2 separate regions of the Homo sapiens genome follow, and region 1 is linked to region 2. The links come from fine-mapping of genetic effects on gene expression. Tissue or cell type: monocytes. Region 2 holds a variant in brackets; the other region holds the start of a gene. All regions are shown on one strand. Distances are between the middles of the regions. Region 1 holds the start of RHOU (ras homolog family member U). Region 2 has its middle 36 kb from the start of RHOU.

Region 1 (4,397 bases), 37 kb before region 2:
GGGAAATGATGACAAAGCATCACTGAAATTTTTTCATAAAAACCAGGGAGTAAGTAATAGAAACTCCTACAAGAGCTGTTCTTGACACTGCTTCCTCCCTTGCCTGGTTACGCAGAGCTGGGCCAAACCCTGCTTTATTAGTTTGGAGGTATCTTCCTCTGCTTCCTGCCGGCCAATAACCTGGCCCCTGCCCACCCTCAGAGAAGGGCCAACAGCAGGGGTGGGTCCACTTCATGAGGCTTTAGAATGACCCAGTTACTGACTGAGGGAATCAAAGGTTATTTGGAAATCTTTAAAAGGCTGTTTCCTTTCCCAGCACTGAGCTGTAACGTGATACTGACCTGTCCGGCAGTGTCACAGAGTTGGAGTCTCACGGGCCGCCCATCCACAGACACCACCGCTTAAAAACAAAACCAAAATGACAATCAGGAGGTGTCTTTTAACCCCTTTCGGAATACTAATAGTTTTAGCTTTCACTATCATTCTCACTCCAAACCCCTTTGCTCCTATTTTAGGTCCTCTAATGAATTAAAGACTAGCCAAAAACAAGGAGGCCCTGTGGAGGCATTTTTGTATACAAACCCACGGCTGGCAAGTCACTCCATTACCGTGAACCAGGCAGCAAATCCCTGAACGCTTTGATGGTGACCCTAAAAAGGCCTATGCTTTTCTCCCAGTCCTGGAAGATTTATTTTCCTGTCACACTTGTTTCAAAGGACCTAAAAACAACACTGGGGGTAAATGGGAAGCAACCCTGCAGTTTTAAATCAGTGGAAAACCTCACAAATAATTCTGTTTTCCCTTGGGAAAGGTTCCCCAACTTCAGGGTTTATCATACAATTCTAGTGTGTTTTGAGAACATGTGCAAACACAGGCTGCCCGCATTGTCCTGTTTAAGAAATGAGGGCACTCCTTATCTCTATGTCAGGTCAAAAGGAGGATTAAAAAAGAAAAAAGAAAGCCATGGCCCCCTTTCCACTGGGATCCGGGGACTCGGGGAGTGTGGAGAGGCCTGCAGCAGGACATGTTGTGGAGGTTTCTATTTTAATTAAGCAGTCAGTTTTGTCTCTTTCTACACAACTTTCTAATTGTTTCTAAATATTTATACTAGTCAGCTGCAGGGGTGGGGTGGGGGGAGGGGAAGAAACAATACCCTGCGGTGGGAACCCACCAGTACAGCACCCATTTCTCTAAGGTACCTTTGGGATGAAAGGAAGGTCAGAGAAGCAATTTTTTTTTAAAGAAGCAAGACAGTTAAGTGTTTCATACTAGTTTCTGTGAATTTTAACTTTTTCTTAAATTTCAAAAAGACCTGAATAGCAAGATAGAGAATTCCTTTCTCTTTGTATCTACCAAGGGAAATGGCATCGCACCCGGTACATAGGAGCTTTAAGTAGCTTAAAGGGATCCTGAAAAGATACCAACAATCAGAATCCGAGCCCATGTGGGCAGGGAAGGTGGTGGGGCTCAGAAGAAAGAAATGGTGTTTACTCTTCAGGTTTCATCCAAACCTAAGCCTTCACGAGGGCCGCTCGCGCTTTTTCACTAAATCAAGTGTTTTCCCGGCGTCTCCGCGGCTCTTTAAAGCGGAGACGCCCCTTGTGAGCTGAGCCGCCTAAAAGCAAAGGAGCGACGCTCAGGTAAAGGCACCTGCGCGTCACCTTCTGATTGAAACTCTGCAGCGGCGCCAGCGACGTCGCCCTCAGGAAACTTTGCTCTATGCAACAAACTGACCGGGCACCCTGAACTCAACCTGTTTCACTCCTACTTATCTGTTGCTTAAATTGTGAGATTTTTTTTTTTTTTTTTTTTGGCAAGGCTCTGACTGCCGCTCCGCCCTCCTCTCTCCAAGCCCACTCCGCCGTGGTCCTTTCGTGTTAGCTCCGCGCTTGCCCGGTCCCTGAGACTCAGGAAACGTCCTGCACTCCTCATTTGTCCGGCTTCCCAGCTGGAGCCGCGCCCGGGGCCCTGCAGCCCCCTTGGGAACCTCGCGACCCTCGCGCCACCTTCCTTCCCCTGGGTGGACCGCGGCCACGCGCCCCCGGCCCCGGCCCCCCGGCCAGCTCACCGGAGAAGTTGTCGAAGGCAGTAGGGATGTACTCGGTGGGGTAGCCGTTGGTGGTGTAGCTCACCACCAGGCTCGTCTTGCCCACCGCGCCGTCGCCGACCAGCACGCACTTGACGCCGCGCCCCTCGGCACCCCCCGCACGCCCCCGGCCCCCCGGCTCCCCAGGCCCGCGTCCCCCGCGTCCACCGCGCTCCCGACGCGGCGGCACCGGAGGCGCCTCGCAGCGGTCGGGGAACGCGGGGTCCCCCTGCTGCGGGGGCATCGATCCGCGAGCGCGGGCTTGCGGTCGCGGGCTAGCAGGGCCCGGCCCGACCGCCCCTCCGCCCCGGAGGGTTGCGGTAGGGAGGAGCTGTCACCGACAGCTGCGGGCGCGTCCCCGGCCCTGGAGAGTGGCGGTTCCGGGCCGCACGGCCAGTAGACAAAGGCGGCCAGGGAGGGTCGTGGCTCCGCGCTCCGGCGGCGCCAGCCGCTCTGCCCTGCGCTGTTGGAGGACAGCGGTCCGAGCGCCGTGGATCCCAAGCGCTCTGTCTCCGCCCGGCTTCCCGGCGACACGACGCGTGGGGGGCGGGCAGGCGGGCGGGCTGGCGGGGAGGGAAAAGAGGCGGGTCTGGCCGAGCGGCTCGGTCCCCGCGCCAAGACCACAGCGCCCCCCGCCTGCGCGCCGCGCGCCTGCACCCGCGCCCGAGGCGCCGCCGCGACCAGGCGGGGACTGCGAACACTGGCGCGGGAGGACCTGGAACACACGTTCCGGGGGACCCCGCGCACCCGGTCCGGGAAGCGACGCCCGAAGGAGCCGGGCCAGCCTCCGCAGCCTCCTCCCCAGCTCCCAAGAGGGTGACCACCGCGCGACTGGCCCGGGAGGTTCCGCTTTCTGGCGCCCACGCGAGCCAGGAAGCCTGAGCCGCCTCCTATTCACTCCGTGGAGCCCCCGGCTGGCCACGGCTCCACCCAGGGGGAAAAATGAAGTGTCCTGGAGGCCTGTCCTGCGAATGAGATTGAATTAACAGACAGCTTTTTTCCTTAAGTCTAACTGCAGCTGATCGTGTGATTTTTTCTCATTTTGAAGCAAAAGGATGCCAGCTCCATTGTGAATGCTCCTTTGACTTTGTCTTTCGGCATGCCGTGAACCTTTATACATGTATGCTCCAGAAATTTTTTTATACCCCCAATTCCTTCATTTACTTAAAGGTAATTCGGAGACATTAATATGTCTGAAAAAATATTCCGTTTCCCTTTGATTCATTTCTCTCTCTGCCTTCCTTCTACATGTGGTCAACAGTCTATTCAGAAAAAGGACGCCTCTTAGCCAAGTCAGAATACCAAGAGTCCTGGGGGTGTACAGCGTGGTGTGAGAAGGGCCACATATTATTAATACACATTGATACTAGTGGTAGTAAAAATAACAATAACAAATACTGAACTTTCATAATGTGTCAGATACTGTTGTAAGCACTCTTCAAGAACTAATTCTTTTAATCTTAACATTACTTACAGATGAGAACACCTGAGGCACAGAGATATTAAGTAACGTTTTGGGATTCCACAAGCTAGTAAGTGGCAATGCCAGGATCCAAACCCAAATAGTCTAGCCCCAGAGCCTGAGCTTCTAACCAAAATCCTGGAGGCAAAAATAAGTCAGTATGATAAACGTAATCTTGAACGTATGGCCATGGTCAGAATGCAGAGATGGATTTATCAAGAAGTTAGAAGCTTGAATCCAGGACCCCTGACTTGCAAAGGACACTTTCACATTGGAAGACCTAGCAATGTGTACACGTGGTAATATGTTTCTGTAAATTTTGAAAAAAAAAAAAGTATTTTAATCACCACCAGTTATGTTCACTGTCTTTTTAAACTGTAACTTACCCTCATATTGAGTGACTTTGAAGAGGCCATGAAGATTTTGGGGATCAGCCAAAGAAAGTGAAGTTGGGGAGACCCAAACAGGTTGTTTGGGTGTAATGGGATACAGAATCAGGATGAAGGTGAGATAAGGGGGATGTCAAGGATGCAAAATTTATGACAAATTGAGCATTCAGAGGCAATATCAAAAAACAACAAATTTAGAGGGCCCTTACTCTCAGGGTCAGGCAAGTGCCAATGTTAAGTTTTGAGCCTCAGGTACCTGACTTGCCTCTCCCTCGCCCTGGCTGTGATGACAGGATATATTTATGTGGTTTACAGTTCTCCTATGTAGATATGTTGTTGCTAGCCATCCAGGTATAGGAATGGCTACCACTGACATACCTATGACCCTCTGTGAGAGTCACATTGGTGCCCTTAACTGTCTTACTTTCCCCAACACTAGAAGGGTTCCAGTAGCAAGAGT
Region 2 (4,397 bases):
TTTACAGTGACCTGTGGTCATACTTTGATTAAATGTTTTAAACCTTTGACATATTTGACGGCCTTCCCAAAATCAAATTTAAAATTCAAAATTAACTCTCTTTAAACCTCAAACTAAATTTGGGATGCTACAGAGGGCCCATACAGCATCCAAAAGACAAATAAACATGCCTACTTAATATATTTTAATTTTTTTCGAAACAGGCTCTCACTCTGTTGCCCAGGCTAGAGTGCAGTGGCACAGTCACAGCTCACTGCAGCCTCAACTTCCCAGACTCATGCAATCCTCCTACCTCAGCCTCCCAGGTAGCTGGGATTACAGGTGCACACCACCCTACCTAGCTAATTTTTTTGTGTTTTTTGTAAAGATGGGGTCCTGCTCTGTTGCCCAGGCTGATCTTGAACTCCTGGGCTCAAGCAATCCACCGGCCTCGGTCTCCCAAAGTGCTAGGATTACAGGCATAAGCCACCATGCCAAGCCTAATATGTTAGATTATATGAAAAGCATTGTCAAATAAGAAATGATCTGCAGTTAACTTTCTTTGAGTTATATTTTTATGAATATATTATTTTAATATATGTTTGAAAATTGTATAATAGTCCTAAAATTCTGACATGTCTTGGTATATTTTATCAGTCATAATTATGGTTATTATGTCCTTAGAAATAACTAAATTTTCTTGTCAATTGCAACCTTAATCATGTTCACAGTTAATGGCTTAATTCTGATAGAGTTTCTAAAAGCTCTTTACAAGCAAATAAACTCCTAAAGTACTGTGCCTTCAAGGAAGTTCATGAAAAAGATAAAAAGGACTCTGACAAAAATTCTTAAATACAGAGTTGTCATGACTAGAATCGTATCATTTAGACTGGGTAAGAAATTCCCAGAACTCTAACAAAGGGGTTGACTGGTTTATGAAACTGCTAACACAAGCAAGACAAAAATTAATTGAATACCAAGAAAATACTTTGCCAGATTTTCATGCTACATCAGCCAGTACTAAAATTGTTTAGATATGCAGTTTAAATGAACTCCATTGTTCAAGTCAAATTACTTATGATAACTTATCTAATAAACAGTGCTTTGCACCTAAATTAGAGAAACAAAATTCGTAGTTAAGAGGATATAAATCAAATGTTAAGCGTAGACTCATGGAGAACCTGGATGGCTACCTGGTTCTTCCTGAGTCCTTAAAACTTCCATTATATAAAGCTCTATATCCATGACTCATTATAAAAAAAGATAAAACTATCCAAATTATATACATAATTTTAGTGACTGTTGTAGATTACTAAAACGGTCTTAATATCAATGTTTGGTTTGTTAAACCTATAATTCTAGAAAGATAATAAAAACTTTAGGTATATTCTGCTATCTGATAGGCCAACTAAAGATTTATAGAGAGATTTCATTCAACTGTCATTTTCAATGCCTGTTTTCTGGTAGTATGAAAGCTTTCCCATGCAAGAAAACTGATGCTATAATAGTAACTAAAAGGTTATTAGGACATATTTTTTCTTTATGGGACATTCCTAGAAAAATCTCCACCAATAAAGGTACTTGTTTCACTAGACACGTTATAAAACAGTTAAATAAGTCACTACAGATACAATTGCATTAGCCAAAGCTAACTTAATTGACCGGATTGCCTTGATCAAAGGTTTTACAGATTAATGACAATCAGATCCTCTTCTCATGGAAAATATAACTTGGCCTCTTATGAAATAATCACTTGAAGGCCTATGCTTCTAATAACAGAAACTCATGTATCTTCTGCTCCTAAACTCTATATGACTAAATGCTACAGGCTTTTTTTTTTTTTTTTTTTTTTTTTTTTGAGACAGGTTCTCTCTCGGTCACCCAGGCTGGAATGCAGTGGTGGAATCATGTCTCACTGCAGTCTCAACCTCCTGGGCTTGAGTGATCCTCCCACCTCAGCCTCCCAAGAAGCTGAGACCACAGGCACACACCACCACCCCTGACTAATTTTTTTTATTTTTTGTAGAAATTGGGTCTCACTCTTGTTGCCCAGATTGGTCTTGAACTCCTGGCCTCAAGCAATCCTCCCACCTCAGCCTCCTGCCTCAGCTTCCCAAAGTGCTGAGGTTACAGGTGTGAGCCACCCTACCCAGCCCGGTAAGGCTTTAATACATTATGCCAGAGTATATTTTCACCAGGTTAAAAAAAA[C/A]AAAAAAAAAACTTTTCATAGCCCACCGACTGAGGATAACCAAACTCTTCATGATTTACAACCCTGAGATTGGGTCTTTTGGAAAACAAAATCAGAGAAAGACTACTCTTGCCACCCACACTACAACAAAACTTTTCTACTATCAAGACACTCTTATCTCTTAATTTTTTCCTTACATATGCCTCTATAAACAATAAAACAAGAAAAGGGGTCTTGTATACACTCATGTGGTATACTTTTATTTGTGAAAGATTTTACAGTCAACTTTATACATGGACAACTTTATGCCTTAATAAAGGAAAGACAAAGGGCCGATGTGGGGGAAAAAATTTAATGGTACTTTCATTACTTCATGATCAGACAAAAACAAAACATTGGTCCACTCCTCTTAACCTTTGTCTATAAGAACATTGCCAGGAGGCCTTCACTCTTCTGGATGGGCATGATTTGTTAGGTCTTTTCTTCCATGGTTTAGAGTAAATGAGACAAAAGTTAAAAATGTATCCCTCATAAATTTCTACAAGGCTGTATAATAGATTCTTCTGCAAAGACTGTGGTTACACAACAGACTTCTTTAAATTCTCATACTAAAATGGTGGTAAATAATAGAATTGCTCTAGATTACTTGCTGGCTAAACAGAAAAGTATCTGCACAGTTACTGACACTTCTGGTTACACATAGATAAATACATCAGGTATTATAGAGACATAGTTCTAAGGTATTAACAAACAGACTGCTTGGTTAAAACAAGTAGACTTTGTATTTAGCTCATTCTTTGATCATTTAATTTTAGTTGGTTTTGTTTATGGGGATCTTGGCTAAGGAACATACTTCAAACTCTTGGTATTATCTTCCTAATAGTCATAATAGTAGTCTCTCTGGTACACTGTATTCTCTCAAAAGTTTTAAATGTTTTCATACAACCATTCATAAAATGTCAAATGGTCTCCCTTTGACTAGAATGACAAAAACCTCAAAGAAATGCATGATCTGTAAAACTGTAGACGTCAAAATATTACAATAGTCAGTTTATGTTATGCATGTTCTACCAAATAAAAAAGAAAACAAACCACCCACAGAATGTCTGAAATTACAATTAATCATTGTTTCAACCTCCTAAGTTTTGAAATGATAGATAACTGGAACAAAACTTAAATGATTGCTATTAAGTAGATCAAGCTAGGCTGCCCACCTATTTCATTCCTAAGGATACAGTGACAAACTAGTCACCCCAAAAATCTTGTGGTACAAAACACTCAGATTACTGCTTAGTTCTAACTACCCATGAAAATCATTTGCCCACCTGGCCTTTGGTGGTTTTACTGTCCCTGGGATTTCATTGTCCTCTAAAATCAGGGAGCACATTTCAATGGCAACATCTTCCACCAATACCAGGCCTGAGAACAGTGACTACAGAGCTCTTCAAGGTTGTGGGTCTTCCCTCATCGGTGCATTTCTCAGCATCTTAGAGAAGGGGATGCCCTCTGGATTTGGGGACAAGGAGGCTGCCAGTCAGCACGATAAACCTATTTCAGCATTTTAATCTCTCCGTCCCTTAAATTCCTTCCTCTGCACTGCCCTAGAGAAGTCCTGGCAACTCGGCCTTACTGATTGTTGCCCAACACTATTGGTCAACCAAGCAAGCAGATGCTGGAAACGCTCTCTAAAAATCCAAACCACACATCACATCTGACTCCTGTGCTGGCTCCAGGCCAAGCTTTCCTCTGGGTCTCTGTGCTTGTCTCTTTGCAGAAAAGAAAACAAAAGGAATGAATATTCAGGGCGTTTGTGCCTTACACAAGATAAAATTTCATTACAGGATATGCAACTTGCCATTCCTGGGGGAGCTCTGAATCCTAAAGTAAATATGAAAGTTTTGACACATCTCTGTGTTTCAAGCAGTTGCCATGTCTCTTGAAAGACAAGAACATAGCATATTCAGCATGCAGAAGGCTGTCAAAACATTTGTTTTTATTACATCTAACTGTCCTGTGTTTTCAGTAATACTGGTGGCCTGGCAATGTGATCCTGAGCCAACTAGGATCATCAAACCATCTAGTCAGATCTGGTGGGAGCACTGACACCAGGAATATGTAGACCTCGGAATTCAAACTTCAGGGGGACTTTTACTCTCTCATGTCTTAAGGTTTATTATTTCTTATATGCCAACTTTCTTTACTTATTAATCTCATCAATAATGTCAGTCAT

The links.
Region 1: it holds the start of RHOU, and the variant in region 2 is fine-mapped to the expression of RHOU in monocytes (Quach 2016, PIP 0.95).

The regions. Positions count from the first base shown.
Region 1 is chr1:228,733,676-228,738,072 of GRCh38, reverse strand. RHOU (ras homolog family member U) reads right to left here and starts at 2,594. Exons shown (of 3, transcript NM_021205.6): 1 at 2,069-2,594; 2 at 342-400. The coding sequence starts at 2,330.
Region 2 is chr1:228,696,888-228,701,284 of GRCh38, reverse strand. It overlaps a transcript of RHOU not described here. Among named protein-coding and RNA genes, the nearest start is that of RHOU, 36 kb to the left of the region's middle. The variant C/A (reference allele first, on the strand shown) is at 2,189.